Linked DNA regions of Homo sapiens. The protein of the gene in region 2 purifies or fractionates together with the protein of the main gene of each other region. This does not show direct contact. Each region holds a gene or a part of one and is shown on either strand. Other genes may lie near its edges.

Region 1 (4,156 bases), on a different chromosome or scaffold from region 2:
GCTGGGTTAAAGCTATCAGGATCTTCCTCCTGCAGTGCTGGGTGCCTGGGCCACTTTCTTCCCATCCCCCACCCTCAGACCCGGCCTCTTTCCCAGGAGCCCCCACCCTGCTGCCTGGCCCCTCGGCACTGCAGCCTCAGGCTTTTCCTTTGGCTGCTTAAGGCAGCCTTTCCTCCTGGTCCCCTCCAGGCGCAGCTGCACTGGGTGACCTGGGGCCACTAGGGGCCAGACGTCCCTGGGGAAACCTTGGGGAGGGCCGTCCACCCCTCTCCAACCCACAGTCCAACCCCTTCCGGCTCTGGGTGGATGATTAACCCACAGACGGAGACTTGGTGAGATCCCCAGGGTTGGCATTTTTCAGTGGCTGCAGCAGGCTGAGCCAGTGGCCGGTTCCTCATCTCCAGCCCCAGCTCCTTCAGGGCTTGGCTGGGGCAGGGAGGTCCAGAAAAAAAGCCAATGGGAGCTGCTCAGCTCCTGCCTCAGGCCTTCCCTGGTCCGGCCTCTCAGGAAACCCTCACAGTGGGCCTGCAGTCCGAACTAGTTCAAAGCCCTCGGCGGCTGTCCCCACCCAGGAGAGGTGCCCTGTGCTCTCTGGGGGGGCAGTCCCTGACCTTTCTGGCTCACCCCTCTCCAGGTATGGTGGGCATGCTCAGGAGCACATGCTGCCCATCTGCAGAGTCCCCAGACTTGGAAGCTTCTTCCTGGGCCTACACCCGGGCTCTGCACTCCCTGGGGCCTCGAGGTCTGGGCTGGACACATCAGCAGGGAGCTACACCTGGAGGTGGCTACTCAAGCCTGCCCCCGTCTCAGCAGGGTACACGGGTCGCCCAGTGAAGAGTGTGCATAGACAAGCTGCATCACTCAGCCCTGCACCCTAGGGGTACCACAGCCCCGGAGGCCCTGGCCGCTGCTCTGGGGACATGAGATCTTCCCAAAGTCTCAACCCAGCCTCTCCTTCTGCGGCTCCCAGCTAGGGCTCCCTGGGCCCTGCCTCCTCCCGCATACCGAGAATGGAGCCCCTCAGCTCTTGGACAATGATGTGCAGGTCATCCACGTCCACAAAGTGCAGGTGCTTCTCGGCAGGGGCTGAGGCAGCGGCTGACAGCTCCAGGAAGTTGCCTCGGCCGGTGCTGACAATGAACACGGTGACGCCCAGGTCCTTGAGCTCCTGCATGGGGGGGCCCACAGGGTCGCTGGAGCCGCCATCTGTCACCCACACCAGCACTTTGGGCACCCCTGGCCGGGCACCTGATGCTTCAGCAAACAGCTGTTCCTTGGCATAGACCAGCGCCAGGCCAGTGTGGGTGTCACCCATGCGCTGGGCAGAAGCACGCACCGCATCCTGGGCAGCCTCACCCGAGCTGTGCTGGCCGAAGGGGAACTCGGTGTATGGCCGACTGCCCACGTGCACCAGACTGGCACGCAGGGCCCCGGTGCCCAGGGGCAGTGGAGCCACCAGCTGCCCCACAAACTCCCGAACCCGGGAGAACTCGTAGTGAGAGACGCTGGCTGAGCTGTCCAGCAGGAACATCAGGTCCCCTCGGGGGGCTGATGCTGGTGGACCTGGGGGAAAGGAGGAATGCTCAGCCTCAGGTGTGGGCCCCCCAGACAGCCCCACAGCAAGGCAGGGTCCCCCAGGGCCCCAGCTTTCCTTAAGTGGATGCTTGCCTTCTCCCAAAGGTCCTAGGTTGGGGGAAAGAGGAACTCTAAGCAAGAGGCCTGTACTTTTGGGGGTTTCACTGCACACTGGCCATGGGATCTAGGGCTCTCTCTGGGCTTGTGTTATCCCATCTGTGAGAGGGCGACTCTCCGCTCCAAGCCCCCACACCTTCCCATTCCTCACAGACCCTGCAAGCAGGTGGAGCCAAGAGTCCTGGCCTAGGCCCCCAGGACAGGCCTGAGCCGTGGGGCTGTTCCCTCCAGGCATGGCTTTCAGAGGAGCAGCCTGAGGCTGGAGTTCAGCCACGCAGCTCAGCCTGCAGGTGAGGCACCCTGGGCATGCACACAGCAGCAGGGGAAGGTGTCGGAGGCACAGCAATGACCACGCCGGATGGCCTGGCTGGAGCCCAGACCCCGCTTACTAGATGGTGGCCCCTCCCCTGGCCTCCATCCTCCAGCCCACCTGGACTCACACAACAAGATATAACCCCCAGCAGCCTGAAAGCCGGAACAGCCCCTCGCAGGCTTCCCCCTTCCTCCGGGCACCTCCGGGGTGGAGGCTGATGCCCCCTACACCGCCCCTCCCCACCAAGCCAGGGCACCAGCGTGCCTCAATTCTAGTCCCGGCCTTGCGGTTTTCCCCAGTGCGGTGGGGCGACTCCAACTTCCCTACCATCCCTCCACTAAGGGCCCTCGCAAGGGTAGGGAAACTGAGGCAGGGGTGCCCCCTTGACAGACATCTCCCTCTTCCTGTCCAGGCCCGCGATCCCGCAGAGATGCGGGCCGGGACGGCCCCTATGCCCCGGCGCTCACGGACGGTGTCGCCTGGAGCACCTGGGCCGCCAGCCTCAGGTGAGCAGGACGCTCCGCCCGCGCCCCCGCCCGGCTCCCGCAGCCTCCCAGCCCGCCCGCCCGTCCGGAGCAGGGGACAGCGACGGCCTTGCGCGGGCAGCGGCGCAGAGCGGTCACCAGAAGCCCCAGCCCCGGCCCGGCCGCCCGCCGCACTCACCGCGCTCCGCGCCGCTCCGCGCCAGCGCCAGCCGCAAGCTCAGGGCCAGGCCGAGCGCCGTCCAGGGGAGCATCGCGCGCGAGGGACGGGGCGCGCTCGGCAACTCGCTCGCTCGCTCGCTCGCTCGGGGCTGCAGGGCGCGTCACCGCGCGGACCAGGCCGGCCCCGCCCCCGGGAGGCCCCTCCCCGAGCGGCCACACCCACGCCGAGGCCACGCCCACGCCCTCCGGCGCGAGCGGAGGGCCACGCGCACAGACCCCGGAGAGGCGCGCACGAGCGGACCCCGACACGCAGGGACACGCAGCACCAGCCGAGATACGACCGAGGCACGCACGCGCAGGCACGCACACACACACACTCCAGTCTCCCTCTCCCGGCCGAGGCTGTGCGGCCCACGCTCTCCACCCCTCTCCGACCCCCAGCCGCGGGAGCCGAGCAGGGAGGTACCAGGCTAGGCCCTCCCCATGCCCACCACTGCCGTGACTCTGGGTGCTGGGGTCCCAGCAGCCAGGCCCAAGAGAACCCCAGGGGCTGGCGGTGGCACCAAAAAAACACGTCCAGACCGTGGTTTCGCCTTGGCCTCCGCGCTGGAGGCGGATAGGTGTCTGGAGTAACAGGACATGTATCCCAGGGACTGACCAGCAGGGATGGGAAGGACCATGGGGTGGAACTTACAAGGACACAGTGGCTTGAAAGGGGACAGAAGACAGGAATTCGAGAGAGACTCGAAGCACCCACGCCACCTGGGCTTCTTGGAGGAAGAGGCATGGGAGTGGGAGATGGTTGGTTGAGGCCCTGTCCAGTGGGACCACACTGGGCCTGTTACCCATATACCCTACCCAGTGAGGGGCCCAGACTCCAGGACCCAGGACACACCCCCAGCAGGACTGGAGGGTCCCACTGGTGAGACAGGAGCTCTTGAGTCTTGGGGTCTTGGTGAGGCCCAGACGAGAGGTGGCTGGTTGCAGGGGGCGTCCTGAGGGACAGTGGCTCCCAGGGCAGATTTCCCCTGCTTGGGTGGGGCTGGGCCAGCAGTGTCCCCTGGACAGGAGAACCCTACCCCGGCCCTCCCTCGGAGTAGCCATGGCCCTCTTCCAGGGCCTCCTCAGCTCAGAGCTGGGAGGTGGGGGACGTGGGGGGGTGTCTGCCAGGATGTCTCCTCCTTCCCCACCCTCTCCTGGAGGATGCGCCGCGGGAGAACGGATGGGGCTCCACAGGCTTCCTTCCTCCCTTTCAGGCAGGTGAGACACCGCGGGGCCGTGCGGACGGCCAGCACTCGACTTTGCCTAAAAAAGGAAGCAGCAGGCTGAGGCTGAGGAGCTGGCGGCAGGAACAAGGGAGAGCTGTGTCCCCGCCGGCGCCCCCCACCCCCCCTGCCGGGGATCTTGGCAGTGGAGGTGCTGGCTGCGCTCCACAGACCTCAGACCTCGGCTGGGACCAGAAATGCCTGGTGCTTCCGCCTGGGCCCGGTGGGGGGACTTTGGGTCC
Region 2 (3,500 bases):
AGTTGGAGCCCCTGGAATTTCACTCCCATTGCTGCAACGCTGAGCAAGAAAGGAACGGACGGTCCCCACTCCCACTCCTTGGGCTGCACTGGAAAAAGGCTGAAGCATTATTCTTAGTGGCTTTCATGTATCAACGTCTTTGTTCTTTACAACCGCTCCATGAGGCAGTACTACTGTCATTTTATGGCATGGACGCTGAAAAATTGGGAGGTCACTTCTGCCTGTGTAACCCTGGGCAATCACGTAGTAATCATTCCTCATGTTATTCAGTTGCAATTATTAGCACATTATCTTTATTCAAATATATTTTTGAAGGGAAAATAATTATTGTCTCTTCCACTAGATTGTGACTCTTTCAAGGGCAATGGTAATTTATTTATTTATATTTTGAGACGGAGTTTCGCTCTTGTTGCCCAGGCTGGAGTGCAATGGCATGATCTTGGCTCACCACAACCTCCGCCTCCCAGGTTCAAGCAATTCTCCTGCTTCAGCCTCCCAAGTAGCTGGGATTACAGGCATGTGCCATCACGCCCGGCTAATTTTGTATTTTTAATAGAGACAGGGTTTCTCCATGTTGGTCAGGCTGGTCTCGAACTCCTGACCTCAGGTGATCCGCCTGCCTCGGCCTCCCAAAGTGCTGGGATTACAGGCATGAGCCATGGCGCCCAGCCAATGTTTATTTTTATAAATAGTTTTATTTCTCTTAATACTATCCATAACACATTATCAGAAACACTGTTCGTGTGAACAACCTTATAAAGACAGGATACAGTGTCGACTGTATTGCTGACCACACAGTTCTGCCACATTGTGGATCAAGAGCATTTTCATTAGCAACTCTGGAAACTTACATGCAATTTACAACAATAATTTAGGAAAACAAATTCTGAACTTACTAGTATCTTAAGAACCCAAAAGTTCTCTGAAATGGCATTACTATCAAAATTTCACCTTTTAAATTTACATATACAGTCACATCCACAGGGTCAAGGAGAGAACACATATATGAGGGTGGTCCTGTGGATTATAATGGAGCTTAAAAAATCCTATCACCTTGTGATGCCTTGATAACTCTGACCCTGAGTAGACCTAGGCTAATGTGCGTGTTTGTGTCCTAGTTTTTGTGTTTTTTTTTTTTTTTGAGACAGAGTCTTGCTCTGTCACCCAGGCTGGAGTGCATTGGCGCTATCTCGGCTCACTGCAAGCTCTGCCACCCGGGTTCACGCCATTCTCCTGCCTCAACCTCCTGAGTAACCGGGACTACAGGCGCCTGCCACCACGCCTGGCTAATTTTTTGTATTTTTAGTAGAGATGGGGTTTCACTGTGTTAGCCAGGATGGTCTCGATCTCCTGACCTTGTGATCCGCCCGCCTCGGCCTCCCAAAGTGCTGGGATTACAGGCGTGAGCCACCGTGCCCGGCCCTGTGTCCTAGTTTTTGACAAAAAAGTTTAAAAAACTAAAACAAACTTTAAAAACGAAAAAAACCTACGTTTTCTTCTAGGGTTTTTATGGTTTTAGGTCTAACGTTTAAGTCTTTAATCCATCTTGAATTGATTTTTGTATAAGGTGTAAGGAAGGGATCCAGTTTCAGCTTTCTACATATGGCTAGGCAGTTTTCCCAGCACCATTTATTAAATAGGGATTCCTTTCCCCATTGCTTGTTTTTCTCAGGTTTGTCAAAGATCAGATAGTTGTAGACAGGCAGCGTTATTTCTGAGGGCTCTGTTCTGTTCCATTGATCTATATCTCTGTTTTGGTACCAGTACCATGCTGTTTTGGTTACTGTAGCCTTGTAGTATAGTTTGAAGTCAGGTAGTGTGATGCCTCCAGCTTTGTTCTTTTGGCTTAGGATTGCTTTGGCGATGCGGGCTCTTTTTTGGTTCCATATGAACTTTAAAGTAGTTTTTTCCAATTCTGTGAAGAAAGTCATTGGTAGCTTTATGGGGATGGCATTGAATCTGTAAATTACCTTGGGCAGTATGGCCATTTTCACGATATTGATTCTTCCTACCCATGAGCATGGAATGTTCTTCCATTTGTTTGTATCCTCTTTTATTTCCTTGAGCAGTGGTTTGTAGTTCTCCTTGAAGAGGTCCTTCACATCCCTTGTAAGTTGGATTCCTAGGTATTTTATTCTCTTTGAAGCAATTGTGAATGGGAGTTCACTCATGATTTGGCTCTCTGTCTGTTGTTGGTGTATAAGAATGCTTGTGATTTTTGTACATTGATTTTGTATCCAAAAGCAATGGCAACAAAAGACAAAATTGACAAATGGATCTAATTAAACTAAAGAGCTTCTGCACAGCAAAAGAAACTACCATCAGAGTGAACAGGCAACCTACAAAATGGGAGAAAATTTTCGCAACCTACTCATCTGACAAAGGGCTAATATCCAGAATCTACAATGAACTCAGACAAATTTACAAGAAAAAAACAAACAACCCCATCAAAAAGTGGGCGAAGGACATGAACAGACACTTCTCAAAAGAAGACATTTATGCAGCCAAAAAACACATGAAAAAATGCTCATCATCACTGGCCATCAGAGAAATGCAAATCAAAACCACAATGAGATACCATCTCACACCAGTTAGAATGGCAATCATTAAAAAGTCAGGAAACAACAGGTGCTGGAGAGGATGTGGAGAAATAGGAACACTTTTACACTGTTGGTGGGACTGTAAACTAGTTCAACCATTGTGGAAGTCAGTGTGGCGATTCCTCAGGGATCTAGAACTGGAAATACCATTTGACCCAACCATCCCATTACTGGGTATATACCCAAAGGACTATAAATCATGCTGCTATAAAGACACATGCACATGTATGTTTATTGCGGCATTATTCACAATAGCAAAGACTTGGAACCAACCCAAATGTCCAACAATGATAGACTGGATTAAGAAAATGTGGCACATATACAGCATGGAATACTATGCAGCCATAAAAAATGATGAGTTCATGTCCTTTGTAGGGACATGGATGAAATTGGAAATCATCATTCTCAGTAAACTATTGCAAGAACAAAAAACCAAACACCGCATATTCTCACTCATAGGTGGGAATTGAACAATGAGATCACATGGACACAGGAAGGGGAATATCACACTCTGGGGACTGTTGTGGGGTGGGGGGAGGGGGGAGGGATAGCATCGGGAGATATACCTAATGCTAGATGAGGAGTTAGTGGGTGCAGTGCACCAGCATGGCACATGTACCCTAAAACTTAAAGTATAATTAAAAAAAAAAAAAAAAAAACGAAAAAAACCTTACAGAATACGGATATAAAAGAAAATACTGGCCAGGTGCTATGGGTCATGCTTGTAATCCCAGCACTTTGGGAGGCCAAGGCAGGCAGATCGCTTGAGCTCAGGAATTCAAGACCAGCCTGGGCAACATAGTGAGACCCCCTCTCTAAAAAAAGTACAAAAATTAGCCAGGCATGGTGGTGCATGCCTATAGTCCTAGCTACTCGAGAGGCTGAGGTGGGAGGATCACT
Region 3 (2,850 bases), on a different chromosome or scaffold from region 2:
CAATATTCAGGAAAATAGCCCTGTGACTGGCACCATACTAATCAAAAGTTCATTTCTATTAAAAACCCTTTTTTCCTTAAGTAGCTACATCTGGCAAGATTCCTTTTTACATTAAGCCTATAGTCAACAAGTCTGTAATAAGGCATACATGCTATACTTTGATCATTAAATAATGACACAACCAGCAAACTCCTTTGCTCTAATATTTTTTATTCCCCCAAATTTGATCCGAATTTATCAGTATTTTTTAAAGTTTTTAAAATTTCGTTTTTCTCTTAACCTGAGAAAACCTGTCCTCTGCCTTGCCCCCAGTTTTCGGTTGATTCACATTATTCCAAAAATATTTTTGAAGGCTCTGTCATTTGCTAAAACCAAATTTTCTTCTCTATGTACACAACTTCAAGTTAATTGAATATTTGTGCAATCTCAGAGTTCAAAACCTAATACATCCAATTTTAGAAATTTCCTTCACAGATCCCTATTTTTACCATGGCTTTAAGAATAAGACACATAATTTCGCAACAGCACAAATAATTAATACCCCCATTATGTGAAGAAAACTCTGAGCTCTAAATGAGTCTCTTCTTATACCAATTCCTATGACTACTGATCGAGCCAATTTTAATAGTTTCCTGTATGTTTAAGGTCTGTTGCTTGCAAACCAAGGCCTGGATGGTTATAAAATGTACTGGTCAGTGAATTATACTGGGAGTTCTCTGCAACACAATTCATTTAGGAGTTGCACCTTGGACTCACTCAGATAAATATAGTTTTCAGAAGTAATGGAAGCTCTTCATCACAAAAATCTAATACAATCTTGGAGTATGTGCCCAAGAATGGTATCAAAGCAAGGGTCCAATAAACTTGACTGACTTAAACCTGTCATTGTGTTGCAACATTCACCATCCTAAGGTGGGGGGAAAAATGATCCTCACCTATAAGAATTTTAGAAGTTTAATGAGAAATTAAAATAAAAAAAGTCCATTTTCTTTAATGTTGTACAAAAAAGTATGAGCAGAACCGAAAGTAAATAAACATTATCACATTTGTTTACACCACTATCTAGTTCTTCATATTAATTTTACTATTCAAACAATAGAAAGGTGGCAATTTAGGGATCGCAAAAGAGATAAAACCAAAAAAACTTTTCTACCACATTTATTCTACACTGTATATAGCTGTGCTCACAGAGACAAGCGGCTTCTTTTACTTCTCCACTGCGCAGGAATTCAGTTGTAAATAAAATTGAACCTGAATTTTAAAAAGAACAATACCTTTATTAAAGACAGTACATACTACTTTCCATATTAGATAAATAAATTTATCTGGATGTTTCTGCCCTCCCTTAGCATGTCTGGCATTTTCTTTTTTTCCCCTTCGAATGCCTTTTTACCACGTTTGGCATTTTCTACACCAATTTTCCCTCACTGGTCACATCTTACACACTAAAAACACTTGTTGAATACTTATAATAAAAAAAATTAAGACTATAAATTTGATTAATTATCCACTAATAAGTTCTTTAAGGCAGGAAAAGTTTCTACATGTCCTTATACTCTGACTACTCAGCACAGTTCCTGCACTTGACAAGTAGGTGTTTGAATAAATAATATGACTCTTTTCCCCCCATATGCATTTCAACTTGTAACCTATCAGGAGGCCAAAGTGGAGTGGCAAAAGATAAGGTTTGATTAGTGACGAAGTAGAAAGAGCAATTTCATACTCAATAAGCTTTCACAAAAGGCCAATTTCACTAACATTTATTAAGTATGTACCAGATTACTGGCACTGTTGTAAGCATTTTATATGCATTATTTCACTTGGTCCTCATAATCCTCTGAAGTAGAGACTACTATCCCCATTTACAGAAGAAGAAACAGTCAAATAGGTATAATAGTTTGTTCAAGGTCACACTGCCAGCAAGTACTGAGGTTGGGCTTCAAATCCAAAACACTGACTGCAGAATCTACTTTCATAACCACCATGTTATTCTGCAATTCCTATATATGGCTGGCTCTAATAGAGACCTCAACCAGTACAAGTCAACTTTTAAAAAACTGCATTTCTTATCACTCTAACTGCCTAAAGATTCAAACCCCACGTAAAAGTTCAGGACCTAATCCCACAAGCCTCAATTTGGGCCAAAATATAGTAAGTTTCAAAAAAGGAAAACGAATATATTACACCAAGATATTCGATTTGCCACCTTTTTTTTCTTTTTTTTAGATGGAGTCTCACTCTGTCGCCCAGGCTGGAGTGCAGTAGCGTGATCTCAGTTCATTGCAACCTCTGCCTCCCGGGTTCAAGCAATTCTCTGCCTCAGCCTCCCAAGTAGCTGGGATTAAAAGCGCTGGCCACCACGCCTCACTAATTTTTGTATTTTTAGTAGAGATGGGGTTTCACCATCTTGGCCAGACTGGTCTCGAACTCCTGACCTGGTGATACACCCCCGCCTCAGCCTCCCAAAGTGCTGGGATTACAGGCATGAGCCACTACATCCAGCCAATTTGCCACATTTTAATACAGACAACTCCGCTCATATTTACACACTGTTGACTGCTATTTAACCATCTCTTTTTTGAATAAAGACATCAACCTTAACTCTTGAGAATATCAGAATTAGGGAAGAGCAGTTGCACAAATACCAGAATGTCATGCCGAAACTTAAGAGTCTGGGGATGGTATTAGTCACAATTAATCTATGGCTTGCACATGATCTAAGAGTCTATCTACTTTCTTAGTTTCCTTAAAGACCAAAATTCATGAACTATACCTTCCCAAGTGGCTCAGAATATTTTAAATTTGACAGTTAATATGGATGAACCAAAAAATGTTCAACTTTCTGTACCT
Region 4 (3,500 bases), on a different chromosome or scaffold from region 2:
ATTTACAGTGTGTTGTGGAACTATTTATACAACATGTCTTGTATAATATGTATGTAGTACACATGTGAATGAATGAGAAGGGACAGGGAACATTTGAGAAGTGGAATGCTTTTTAAACTCCGTGCTATACAGTGAATGGTAATATTCATTGTGATACATTGAAAGCAGAATTATTGTTAGGGGGTGCATTCTTCTTATGAAAGCCATGAGAAATATTTCTGGAGTCTTCCCTGGGAATGGCCAGGGCCAGAGGACATCTTTGAATGCCATTGTACATGTTCTGGTTATCTGTTTTTTCCTTTAGGTTAGTGGTTAACAAATGGGGTTTGACAGAACAGGTGTTTCAAGTGGGGTTGCATTTGGGGCAAATGAGGCTTAGCTAGTGGGGCTCTAGGCTCAGAGCTTCTCTTCAGCCAGAGCACCTCTGCTTTTATTTTTGTTATGTATCGCAGCCCTCGATATGGTTGTCTTTTAAAAGTATCAAAAAGCTACTGTTTTAATATTTCATATTCTCCCTTTAGGTATAATCCATCATTTAAAATTTCTGAAATTTTGTAAAGCCTATACAAATTAGTGAATTTGTTTAGGTGGTTAAAGGCCCCCAAAATTTTGTTGCTTTTTTCTGCTGTGTTTTCTCACTGGAAATTGCCTTTAGATATTCTTTACCTTAAAGTCAAAAGATTAAAGGTAGAAAGTGATTAGTTTGTTTGCTCAGGAAGAAAAGGGAAGGGATATGGTGAGTGTACACCATGGAGAATGTGGAGCTGGCCCCTCACCCATGACCCATCTGATCTCCCACTGTGGCTGATTGGGAGCAGATGGGAAGGCACCACAGCACTTAGTCTCTTGGTCAGAAGTTACTCTTATACTTGTGAAACTTATGGTCTAACAGCAAAAGGCTGAATTTTTACCTCCACTAAGGAACTTCACAAAACCGTTCAGCCTCTGGTACAGTAAAGAACGTTGCCTACATTTTTTTTATTGGTATGACCGGACACAATATTGTTACCCAGGGATCCTCTTGTGTGAAAATGAAGAAAATCAATTTCATTTCCCCAAAGACAGACTAAAGTGTCTCAGGTCTAGCGGTTGCTCTTTTATCAGAGGAGTTTTGAATGGATTAAAATAAGAGGGACAAGAAATTGAGTGAAGATTCCATATCTCAGAGCTGCCTAGGGATACTTCCAGAGTGACAGAGGGACCCCCACATAGAGGAGGAGATTGAGTCTGCATTGACTCAGGTTATTACTGTTGTATCTGATTAAAACACAGGCAGCATAACAAAGCGTCTGATATGGACTGAAGGACTGTGTGTTTGCATTTAATTTGAAACAACAGGAACATGACTCCCAGAACAAATCATTATGAATATAATAATACCAGCCATGACAGCCTGTGTGCTTTACCCACCTGAAAGCTCCTGTTGTATGTATGGAAACGTGCCTTTGATCATGATCTCTGGCTTTTAGAAAATATACTTTACCTTTATATATTAGTGAGCATTATTATACTCTCCTTATTTTGTCTTTCCTGTCTGGCCTTGACTTTGTTGGTAGAGCTGTTACGTGTTTAGAGACTGGCTGTATTCATGAAGGCAGTTTTTGTCTTGGTATAGCCAGCTCCCAATTCTGGTTGAAAAAAAATGAGCAACAGTGATGTTAGTGATAATGATAACAAGAAAAGGAAAGAATCTTGATATCCATGTTAATAAGAATTTTTTAAAAATTATAGCCACTTTATTATATTACTACTTTCCTTAGTAAACTGTCTTTTTTACTAGGTTATAATTTTGATAGTATTTAAAAATGAACCTAAGAATATGTCTCTGTAGATTAACTGAGGATGTCTTGGTGTTTCTTATCTTCACAATTATTCATTGTCTACCTAAACAATGTTCTAACTGCACTTCTTCCAAGAACTTCACTGGGCAAATAAATTGTTTATTTCCTTAGCACGTAAGTGTTCAGTTTGCATTATGTTAGTTAATTTGCACGTTTGTATGTCAGCTTTGTTCTTTAGTGTCCTTTGCGTGTTTATCTTGCCTCTGATACTAAAATTATAAGCTCTTGGAGGCAGGCAGTATGGATTCTAATCTTTTATTATTCTTGCACAGTGCTCAGACTGTGACCTTGTATGCAGTAGGTACTCTATAAATGTTAGCACAGGTTTCATGGTGTCAAGGCAATGACTATGTAATGAAGAGAGATTGATGGGAACATTAATATGTACATATATTCCTTGAGACTTTTTATCAATGTATTCATTAATACATGTATGAGTGCTGGAAAATTCTCTGTAATGGTAAATGGTTCTGAACTGTTTGCAAAGGTTACTTTGTTTTTTCTTCAGGAAACTGAATTTGGAGGTTATTCCTGAAGAATGTGTCATGTATTGATGAAAGATTACATCTAATACATTTACAAAAATGATACCTTATGTATGAGAAATCTGAGATTACCCCGTCCTCTCTCTGAGTTTAGGCTAAACTGCATATAAATCAGAACTGTGTAGTAGAAAAACAATGGGCTGTGGAGTTAGGTAGAGCTCTTCTCAAATTCTTGTTTAAAACAGTGGGCTGTGGAGTTAGGTCGAACTCTTCTCAAATTCTTGTTTAAAACAATGGGCTGTGGAGTTAGGTAGAGCTCTTCTCAAATCTTTGTTTCACCTCATATTTGTGTTGTAATACGATTGTGCCTCTCTGAGCCCTAGTATCTGCATCCATAAAGAATAGGAATACCAACACCTCTTCATGGGGTTTGATGTGAGAGTTAGATGATACAGCACATTTACATGTACAGAGCACAGTTCTGGCAGAAAGGAGGGACTCAATAAATGGCAGTCATTTTTATTATTTTTCCTAATTTCAGAAACTCCTGAATGGTGGTTGACCTTCAGAGAGAGTCATCCCTGCCATCCTCGTTGGTCACGGTAGCTCTCACTGTGAGGTGGCTCTCACTCTAACCTCTAAAGACCCTAGTCTTTTTGGTACTTTTTTGTATCGCCAACCCATACATACAGTCCAAAACATGCCTTAAACAGTTTTATCTTAACAACCGGCCTATCTTTGTATATGTCTAGGAGTTTTCATATATTTTGGTTGGTAAAATATATATAACATAAGATTTGCCACTCATCTATCTTGTCAAATGTAATTCAGTCAGCATTCACCTCACCAAGATAGTCGATGTTATCTAATGGCAGATAATATCAGGCTTCAAAGCCAGTGTGAACATTCCAACCATGATAATGAACTCAGAGCAATGGTTCGCTTTGCCTTTCTGGACTCATTTTAGGAATGTTCGTGAGTTAAGTGGGGATTGCTCTATGTAGCCAAAAGCTTAGACCAGTTATCCTCTTCAGCCTTTAACTGGAGATGGAGAAAAGTGACTCATCAATTTATGTTTAGTTTTTCATATGCCTTGAGAACCATGTTATGTCTTATCAGCCTTTTCTTTCTCAGGAAAGGCAATTTCCGCTTTACCCATAATCTGTAACCTTCA
Region 5 (3,500 bases), on a different chromosome or scaffold from region 2:
ATAATTAAGTATATGGGTAAAGTTTAAGGTTCTAATTGGATGACAAGGTATGTACAATTGCCATAATAGTGTCAATATTTTATATATAAACAAAATAAATATAAAGGAGCTATAAGGTATTAGGTGGGCATGTCATATGTACAACTAGAACTAGACTTGAAACTTATGATTTTGAGGTAAGAGGGATATTAGGCAAATTGAGAACACATAAGCACACATGTACTTGAAGGAGTCAAGGCTTGAAAAACAAATAGCTAGCTGTATAGGGAAGAAGGAAGAGACATTTTTGGAAGAGGAAACTGGGAATGCCCAGAAGTGGGCCGATTCATTCAGGAAAACAAGAGGCCATTGTAGCAGAAGCACCAAGGGCAATAGATGGAGGGGTATTAAAAATGAAGCACTCGAAAAACACATATATACACAGGCTGGGCGGGGTGGCTCACATCTGTAATCCCAGCACTTTGAGAGGCCAAGGTGGGAGGACTGCTTAAGCCCACAAGTTTGAGACCAGTCTAGGCAACACAGCGAGATCCCACCCTCTACAAAAAATTTAAAAATTAGCCAGGCATGGTGGTATGTGCCTGTAGTCCCAGCTACTTGGGATGCTGAGGCAGGAAGATCACTTGAGCCAGGGAGGTCAAGGCTGCAGTGAGCCGTGATCACACCACTGCACTCCAGCCTGGGTGACAGAGACCCTGTCTCAAAAAAGAAAAAAAAAAAAGGATCAGAAGAGGGCCAAGTCACACAGATTACAGATTATGCCCTGGCTTTAAGGTGTTTGGATTTTACTTCCAGAACAATGGGAAGTCATTAGAACCATTTAAGCAAAGGAGTAGTAAGTTAATGTTTTTTGAAGGTTACTATTCCAAAAGAAGGAAGGTTACTATTCCAAAGGAGGAAACAACTTCGAGAAGTTGATACTAGTCACAATCACTTCACAAATTTGCCAATTAGGTGGTTGCTAATGGCAAGGCAGAGGTCTACGTCAGGTTTTAATGGACTAAGGAATGAATAGAGGCTGAGGAAGCAGAAAGGCAATAAATACTTTTAAAAACAGTGGACAAGCAAGGAGAAGCAGAAGAGAGTCTTATATATACTTTTTATAGGAAGGCAAGAGAAGTTGGATATTAAAGGAAGGAGGTGGGACACTGAAGAAGATAACTGATGTAACAAGTTCTCAAAGAAGAATCTATCTGTTGCTGTTTTAATGAGGTTTAGATGATAAAGGACACTGGGGGAGTTGCCACAGCAAAATCTCAATTTCCCTGTGAAGAAATAAAATAAAGGTCATTTACTAGAAAGTGGAAAGAAAAGAGAGTAAATGAACAGACAGAGACTTTTGCAAAGTGACTATTTAGAGGACCCATGAGACATTTGAAAAGAAATGACCACAGTTAAAGCAGCACTAGAGCAATGCTCACTGTATGAAATGGAAGAATACAGAAGCTATATGGCTGGATTCATCTAAGGTCAGGAATTAGTAATAATTATTCCAGGAATGTCTGCATAAAATGAATTATAAAAAATTATTGTTATAAACACTGAAATAATTTTTTTAAGCTTAGGAAAATTGCACAACTCTATGAATATACTAAAAACCACCTGCTTGTGTACACTTTAAAAAAGAAAGAATAGTATACGCTGCTACAATATTCACAGATGTAGGAAGAGGTAAATAGAGAGTAGAATACTCCAGCAGGGTGTTCACTTCCTGTAGGAGGATCTACATGGCAAGTCAAGAAATAATCAGAAAAGTGGTCTGGTAAGTATAAAATCTGAAAAAGGGAGTGGGAAAAATCAAGTATTTAATAGGATCATGCCAAGATCATGCAAAAAGTAAATGTCAACCTAATATATGGCTGTCACATAAACTTTTCCCCAGGTGCCGTAAATTTTCAGCCTTTGTTTGTCAAAAGATACTCATATTACTTTTATCAGGGGGAAAGAGGGGATTAAAAAATATAAAACCCTCACCATGGAGCAACAACCCTTTGGTTTTGCTAACTGAATTGGTTCTAGACCTACAGGCTTTGTTCTTGATGCTTTACAACTTCTATGGCATTTAATTTTCTTTAATTTTCTTTTTTTTTTTTTTTTTTTGAGACGGAGTCTCGCTGTTGCCCAGGCTGGAGTGCAGTGGCGCAATCTCGGCTCACTGCAGGCTCCGCCCCCTGGGGTTCACGCCATTCTCCTGCCTCAGCCTCCCGAGTAGCTAGGACTACAGGCGCCCGCCACCTCGCCCGGCTAATTTTTTGTATTTTTAGTAGAGACGGGGTTTCACCGTGTTAGCCAGGATGGTCTCGATCTCCTGACCTCGTGATCCGCCCGCCTCGGCCTCCCAAAGTGCTGGGATTACAGGCGTAAGCCACCGCACCCGGCCGGCATTTAATTTTCAAAACACTTCAGACACTACTCATCTATCCCATGAAGAACTCAAAAGTAAATGGAGAGCAAAGTTTTGGGTGAGATGTAATAATCAGAATGTCAAACCAAACTCAGAGCTGCAGTGCCAGGGATCATCAAAATGGTTAAAAATAAAGTACAAACCATATTTCAAGAACCCATACAACCATTCTGTTTTTCACTTTCAGTACAGAATTCAATATATTACATGAATATAATTATATTCAACAGTTTATTATAAATAGGCTTTGTTTTACACAATTTCCCCCAACTTTAGACTAATGTAAGTGTTCTGAGTATGTCTAAGGTAGGCAAGACTAAGCTATGATGTCCCGTAGGTTAGATATATTTCAAATAACAATATTTTCAACTGACACCGGGTTTATCAAGATGTAACCCCCAGTAAGTCAAAGAGTATCTGTATTTGTTTATTGACAGTGGTCATATAAAGCAAAGAAAGACGCTTAAAGTTGCCATCTAAGGAGGAAATTCAAGGCTCATTTCATACAAGTATAAACATTATTTTGACATAGGAAAAAATGAGTAGAAAAAAATCTAAAATTATATACTTACTTTGTCTAATTAATCTTTTGTCAGCAACCAAAACATTTTCAGCATCCACAATGATTACCTTCCCATCTCTAGGACCAACTGCAAAATTGTCAAAGCTGACGTCCAGGAGGTAGAGTGCAAATTCAAAGTCATTGTTTGTAAGCTGTTCTGCTATTTCCATTAATTGCCAAGCGAGGTCAACTCGTTTTTCCCATGGCGCATTAAAGTAACTCCACAGTTCTTCTCCAACATAATTTACAGCCACCATTCTTCCACAAGCTCCAAGATACTTTGCAAATGGCCAACCTTCATCAGACGGAAAACTCTACAAAAGAATTATCTTAATATTACAAGAGATTCTGATGAAAATATCCTAGGTCTATCCTCAGATCCTTTCAGTAGAGATTGCTACTAGGAATGACTTTGGATTTTCTTATTACATTCAACAGTTTATTAGAGATTAACTTCATTTTTTCCTAACTCATACCAGTACTATGGACCTGAAAAAAATTTAAATAGAGAACTTTACATTATAAAGCTAAAAT
Region 6 (2,199 bases), on a different chromosome or scaffold from region 2:
CACGGTGAAACCCTGTCTCTACTAAAAATATAAAAAGAAAAATTAGCCGGGCGTGGTGGCATGCACCTGTAGTCCCAGGTACTCAGGAGGCTGAAGCACGAGAATCGCTTGAACCCAGGAGGCAGAGGTTGCAGTAAGCCAAGACTGCACCACTGCTCTCCAGCCTGGGTGACAGAGTGAGACTCCGTCTCAAAAAAAGAAAAAAAAAATTTTTTTTTTTGAATAGGGAATACTTTCGTGTGTTTCAGACTAAAAAATTGATTTTATATGTATTTATAATTACACACATATACGTATGCAGTAAAGTTTCATTTTTACTTGTCCTTCAGCCACCATTTCCTTTCCTCTTACACACTAATATTTTCAGTTTCTTATTTATCCTTCCAGTTATTTTATGGACATACCAGTAAATACACACATATATTAATATATCCAGTATTTTCCCCATCTCTTTTTTGCACAACCCCTTAAATATACTTAAAATAAAACAGAACAACAAATTTTTCGTAAACAAAATTTAATACAACCATATAGTCAAGTAATAATGGTTAAAAGACATTTTATTAGATACAACTTTTAAAAAATTAAACTATGCAAGAAGTATATTTAAACAAAACATGTAAGTAAGTATTCACGTGCTACAACTTAACTAAGAACAATTAAATACAAAGCATTCTTTCCACTATGAAGACTCTGGAGCCTCTAATTGAAAGCAAATGACCTTAGGTCTATACTAGTTGTAAAGCAGATTATACTTTTGTTCAACTCTAAATTTGTATTGTCTTAGAGCTCCAACAACTCTCAATAAAAATTTAAATAAAGAAACCTTGGGGGAGGGGTGATAGGGAAGGGGAGAGTAAGTGCTTTTTCAAAAAGGTAAATGAAAAAGCCTGAAGAGGGAAAAAATTGTACATAAGTATGGAACAAAAATAAGTATACTTTTTTGACATTCGATGTAGATACTGCAAATGAATTTACACGGGTTTAATCAATGTAAGATAGATATTTGTCTGAATATTTTAAAAAGCACCTAGGTATCAAAAAATAAAAACAAAAAATATAATGAAACTCCAAACATCCAACAATCTCCCTTAACATTCTCATTCTGCCAAGCAACCACACGTTGGTGCTTATTACACAATTTAAGAAGGGGAAGTTTATTTACTCTATAGGAAACAAATATGAACCTTATCTAAGGTAAGCTTCATTTAGATTGAAAAAAAAGTTGAAATAGCACTAGAGAACTTAAGGCACATAAACAAATTCAGGTGCAGTTATTTTGAAACCATTAAAACAAATTCTTTTCTTTGGAACAATATATAAAATAAGTTATGAATGTTGCTGTTTTTATCAGCACTAGGAAAATTTAATATCTAAGGCAATCACACAAATGTAAAATGTTCATATAAAACATTAAAAAATGTCTAAAGTGTCTCTGGAATTATTCATTCACACTCCTGGCTCAAATGGTTTCTGGTGCCTAGCATTAGATGTGACAATAATGATAGCTAGCTAGTCAAACCTACTGCCTTAAAGATCAACCAATTTGCTCCATTCTGGTTACTTGGCATGGTAAATTTATTTAACTAAAAAGAATAATGGGGTGAGGTGATGTAAACCTGGCTTTCAATAAGATGCACAACAAATTCTAATAAGGCCAAAACTCTGTTGAGGTTAACTGGTGTCTTGAGTTTACTAAAATAAAGGCAGTCCATAGGAAGCCTCAAAGAGACATTATCTTACCACTTGGCACCACAAAAACACCAAGCTCTCCTCTCTGAAAATACAGGCCGGGGGTGGTGGCTCACGCCTGTAATCCCAGCACTTTGGGAGGCCGAGGTGGGCGGATCACGTGGTCAGGAGTGATCCGTCTCTACTAAACCCCGTCTCTACTAAAAATACAAAAAAATTAGCCGGGTGTGGTGGCACGCACCTGTGGTCTCAGCTACTCGGGAGGCTGAGGCAGAATCCCTTGAACCCGGGAGGTGGAGGTTGCAGTCAGCTGAGATCGCGCCACTGCACTCCAGCCTGGGCGACAGAGCAAGACCCCGTTCTCCCCCCTTCCCCAAAAAAAAAAAAAAACGAAAAAAATACAGTTTGAAGTAGATGTCGTCTTTTCCACATATAAATCTCAAGACATAAAAGGCACACACAATTCAACTCCTCTCTTTTCATATATGGGTTCTCACAGCAATTTAA
Region 7 (3,500 bases), on a different chromosome or scaffold from region 2:
GTACTATTAAAGAGTATGCAGTGAGGCAGCTGACAATGAAATTTTTCATAAAAATGTATAAAAAGGCTATGTTAAGTTTGGGTGGAAAAAACAATGCACCACCATATTACTACCAGCAGTCACGATGTCCTGTCTCAGATTTTAGGAGTCACCGATCTGGTTGGGAGAAATGCTGAGGGATGATCAAGCCATCAATAGCGATCTAAGGAGTGCACACAGTTCAGGAAATGGATAAACAGGTGCCCAGGAAGGCAACTTTAATGAAACTGGTTCTAAAACAAAGGATACAAGAGACCTAAATGATCCAAAAAGAGTGATGGCTTCTCATTTTCTGTCCCCTATAGAGAATATAAATATCATTTCTTCTGGAATCCAACACACTGGATTCATTTTCAAGATGTATCACTTTATTTTCCAGCACGTGACAGTCACATGATTTCTGCAGTGAGCCCCAAAGCTTCCACGAGCTTTCCTGGAACCTACGGCCAGAAGAGTCCTGAGATTTCAAATATTAAAGCTTTCTCCACAGCCACAAGTCCCTTTGATGTTTGGGTTATTGAACACAAACTCACTGGATAATTTGTCTTCAACATAGTCCATTTCTGTTCCTAAAAGTGTTAGCTGTGCTTTCTTTTCGATGAATACTCTGACTCCTTGGAGAAAAGAAAACATGTGTCATGGAAAGCCTGCAGCCTTATGGAACTTGCTGATTCAAAGCACAAGTGAACTTGAAATAGTGACTATCAATGAAAGTCAAACAAGAAGCCTTGAACATTTTAAATTATTTCCTTAAGGAATTAAGCATTCAGTTTCCTGTCTGCCCCTTCTTTCCCACACATGAATTTATGTCACAATCACATTAGGGGAGAATTTTATACAAGTAAATTCCATGACAATTTTATGCAAAATTAGAATTTACCTTTCACTATACTTCACTCATTTTTCCAGTTTGCAACATGAAGAAAATGTATATTCTCGATGAGTTTTATGAAATAAAAAAAAATTTATGAAAATTCTGCAATACACTAGATACACGGATTCAAGCTTAAAGATGTACAAAGGACTGTGATACAATGGGGCTATTTTAATAACATCAATCAGTACAACAATAGTCTTTTCTGGTTACAGGACGGAAAACAGGTACTATTCCCTAGTAATTACACAGGTAGAGGTCAGCATCTTTGTAAATACAATCTTTTTTTTTTTGGACAGAGTCTCACTCTGTCACCCCGGCTGGAGTGCAGTGGTATGATCATGGCTCACCACAAGCTCCACCTCCCAGGCTCAAGCGATCCTCCCACAGGATTACAGGCACATACCACCAGGACCAACTAATTTTTTTAGAGTCAGGGTTTCACCACGTGGCCCAAGCTGGTCTTGCATTCCTGGGCTCAAGTGATCCTCCCACCTCGGCCTCCCAAAGTGCTGGGATTACAGGTGTGAGCCACAGTGCCCAGCCAACAAATACAATCAATTTAAGAAAGCTTTCTAGTCTGGGAAACAGGGCAAAACCCTGGCTCCACTAAAAATACAAAAATTAGCCGGGCACAGTGGTGGGCACCTGTAGTCCCAGCTACTCGGGAGGCTGAGGTGGGAGGACTGCTTGAGCCCGGGAGACAGAGGCTACAGTGAACCATGATTGTGCCACTGCACTCCAGCCTGGGTAAGAGAGCAAGACTCTGTCTCAACAAACAAACAAAACAACGAAACAACAAAAAAACTTTCTTCCTTACAAGAAATTGAGCCATTAGCTAAATATAAACAATATATAATTAAGTCACCTCTTCTTTAAGATGAAAATCTTAAGGTTTATAATGTGTTATAATTTTTAAAATAATACATTTTTAAAAGGTCTTTATTGATAGTTATAACTTTAGTTTAATAAGAAAGCACACTTAGGAATCTAGGCCTCATTCTCCCATGTAGGTAAGAACTGCAAGCTAAGTGCATACTTCCAATGACAAGATAAATTATTTATTTTAGATAGGTTTTAACAGATTATAGGGTGGAAGAAGGGGGCAGCAGCAAATATAATTAATTTTAATTATAAATTAAATTATAATAAATAGCTTTGAATAAAAATTGGAAATACAGGATTCCTCAAAAACATGAGTTGATAATACAGCTCCACTAAAAATACAAAAATGAACCAGGCATGGTGGTGGGCGCCTATAATCCCAGCTACTTGGGAGGCTGAGGTGGGAGGATCGCTTGAACCAGGGAGGTGGAGGTTGCAGCAAGCCGAGATCACACCACTGCACTCCAGCCTGGGTGAGAGAGCGAGACCATCTCAAATTAAAAAAAAAAAAAAAAAAAGGATTATAATGGAGCTGAAAATTCCCATTGCCTAGCAATGCTGTAGCCACCATAATATCACAAGACAACCCATTACTCAGGTGTTTGTGGTGATGCTGGTGTAAACAAACCTATACTGCCAGTCATATAAAAGTCTAAGCATGTTCAATTATGTACACTACATAATACTTGATAATGATAATAAATGGTTATGTTACTGCTTTATGTATTTACTATACTTTTTATTGTTTAAAATTTTAGAGTGTACTTCTACTTATAAAAAAAAAAGTTAACCGTGAAACAGCCTGAGGCAGGTTCTTCAGGAGGTATCCAGAAGAAGGCATCATTATCACAGAAGATGACAACTCCATGAGTGTTACTGCCCCTGACGGCCTTCCAATGGGATGAGGGGAGGTGGTGGAAGACAGGGATATTGATGAACCTGACCCTGTGGAGGCCTAAGTTAATACGTGTGTTTTTGTCTTAGTTTTTAATTAAAATGTTTATAAAGAAAAAATTAAAAATAGAGAAAAGCTTATAGAATAAGAACGTAAAAAATTTTTGTTATTTGTACAATGTGTTTCAAAGCTAATGTTATCACAAAAGAGTCAAAAAAAAAAAAAAAAACCCCAAAGCTTACAAAGTAAAAAAGTTTCAGTAAACTAAGGTTAATTTATTATTGAAGACTAAGTGTACAAGGTTTATAAGGTCTATAGTACTACGGAGGAACGTCCTAGGCTTTCACATTCACTTATCACTCCCTACTCACTCACTGACTCACGCGGACAACTTCCAGTCCTGCAAGTTCCATGCATGGTAACTGCCACAAACAGGTGTACCATGTTTTATTTTCTTCTTCTTCTTCCTTTTTTTTTCTTTTTTTTAAGAGATGGAGGTCTCGCTATGTTGCCCAGGCTTAAGGGCAGTGGCTATTCACAGGTAAGAACACAGTGCACTATGATGTCTTTTTTTCTTTTTTGAGACAGAGTCTCACTTTTTCACCCAGGTTGGAGTGCAATGGCATGGTCTCGGCTCACTGCAACCTCCGCCTCCTGGGGTTCAAGCGATTCTCCTGCCTCAGCCTCCCAGTAGCTGGGACTACAGGCGTGTGCCACCACACCCAGTTAATTTTTTGTATTTTTAGTAGAGATGGGGTTTCACCATGTTGGCCAGGCTGGTCGTGAACTCCTGACCTCATGATCCAC

Evidence for each region.
Region 1: the proteins of PDIA6 (region 2) and VWA1 purify together in Homo sapiens (affinity purification with mass spectrometry; 3 studies listed by BioGRID and IntAct, with this or other methods). This does not show direct contact.
Region 3: the proteins of PDIA6 (region 2) and NUDT21 purify together in Homo sapiens (affinity purification with mass spectrometry, with the first as the bait; one large-scale study listed by BioGRID). This does not show direct contact.
Region 4: the proteins of PDIA6 (region 2) and BTBD9 purify together in Homo sapiens (affinity purification with mass spectrometry; 3 studies listed by BioGRID and IntAct, with this or other methods). This does not show direct contact.
Region 5: the proteins of PDIA6 (region 2) and DIPK2A purify together in Homo sapiens (co-immunoprecipitation; one study listed by IntAct). This does not show direct contact.
Region 6: the proteins of PDIA6 (region 2) and KLHL24 purify together in Homo sapiens (affinity purification with mass spectrometry; 3 studies listed by BioGRID and IntAct, with this or other methods). This does not show direct contact.
Region 7: the proteins of PDIA6 (region 2) and ISCA1 purify together in Homo sapiens (affinity purification with mass spectrometry; 2 studies listed by BioGRID and IntAct, with this or other methods). This does not show direct contact.

The regions. Positions count from the first base shown.
Region 1 is NC_000001.11:1,434,334-1,438,489, reverse strand, and holds the start of VWA1 (von Willebrand factor A domain-containing protein 1 isoform 1 precursor), read right to left. Parts: upstream 2,801-4,156; 5' UTR 2,742-2,800; coding exon 2,669-2,741; intron 1,564-2,668; coding exon 1,006-1,563; intron 1-1,005. Other genes in the region: uncharacterized protein LOC107985729, read right to left, coding at 3,340-3,954, 4,088-4,156. UniProt on the Homo sapiens protein: Promotes matrix assembly. Involved in the organization of skeletal muscles and in the formation of neuromuscular junctions.
Region 2 is NC_000002.12:10,802,786-10,806,285, forward strand, and holds part of PDIA6 (protein disulfide-isomerase A6 isoform d precursor), read right to left. Parts: intron 1-3,500. UniProt on the Homo sapiens protein: May function as a chaperone that inhibits aggregation of misfolded proteins. Negatively regulates the unfolded protein response (UPR) through binding to UPR sensors such as ERN1, which in turn inactivates ERN1 signaling.
Region 3 is NC_000016.10:56,431,483-56,434,332, forward strand, and holds part of NUDT21 (cleavage and polyadenylation specificity factor subunit 5), read right to left. Parts: coding exon 2,849-2,850; intron 1,252-2,848; coding exon 1,230-1,251; 3' UTR 1-1,229. UniProt on the Homo sapiens protein: Component of the cleavage factor Im (CFIm) complex that functions as an activator of the pre-mRNA 3'-end cleavage and polyadenylation processing required for the maturation of pre-mRNA into functional mRNAs.
Region 4 is NC_000006.12:38,573,930-38,577,429, reverse strand, and holds part of BTBD9 (BTB/POZ domain-containing protein 9), read left to right. Parts: intron 1-3,500.
Region 5 is NC_000003.12:143,985,323-143,988,822, reverse strand, and holds part of DIPK2A (divergent protein kinase domain 2A isoform a precursor), read right to left. Parts: intron 3,281-3,500; coding exon 2,977-3,280; intron 1-2,976. UniProt on the Homo sapiens protein: May play a role in cardiomyocyte proliferation through paracrine signaling and activation of the PPI3K-AKT-CDK7 signaling cascade.
Region 6 is NC_000003.12:183,682,821-183,685,019, reverse strand, and holds the end of KLHL24 (kelch-like protein 24), read right to left. Parts: 3' UTR 501-2,199; downstream 1-500. UniProt on the Homo sapiens protein: Necessary to maintain the balance between intermediate filament stability and degradation, a process that is essential for skin integrity.
Region 7 is NC_000009.12:86,265,539-86,269,038, forward strand, and holds part of ISCA1 (iron-sulfur cluster assembly 1 homolog, mitochondrial precursor), read right to left. Parts: intron 654-3,500; coding exon 505-653; 3' UTR 1-504. UniProt on the Homo sapiens protein: Involved in the maturation of mitochondrial 4Fe-4S proteins functioning late in the iron-sulfur cluster assembly pathway. Probably involved in the binding of an intermediate of Fe/S cluster assembly.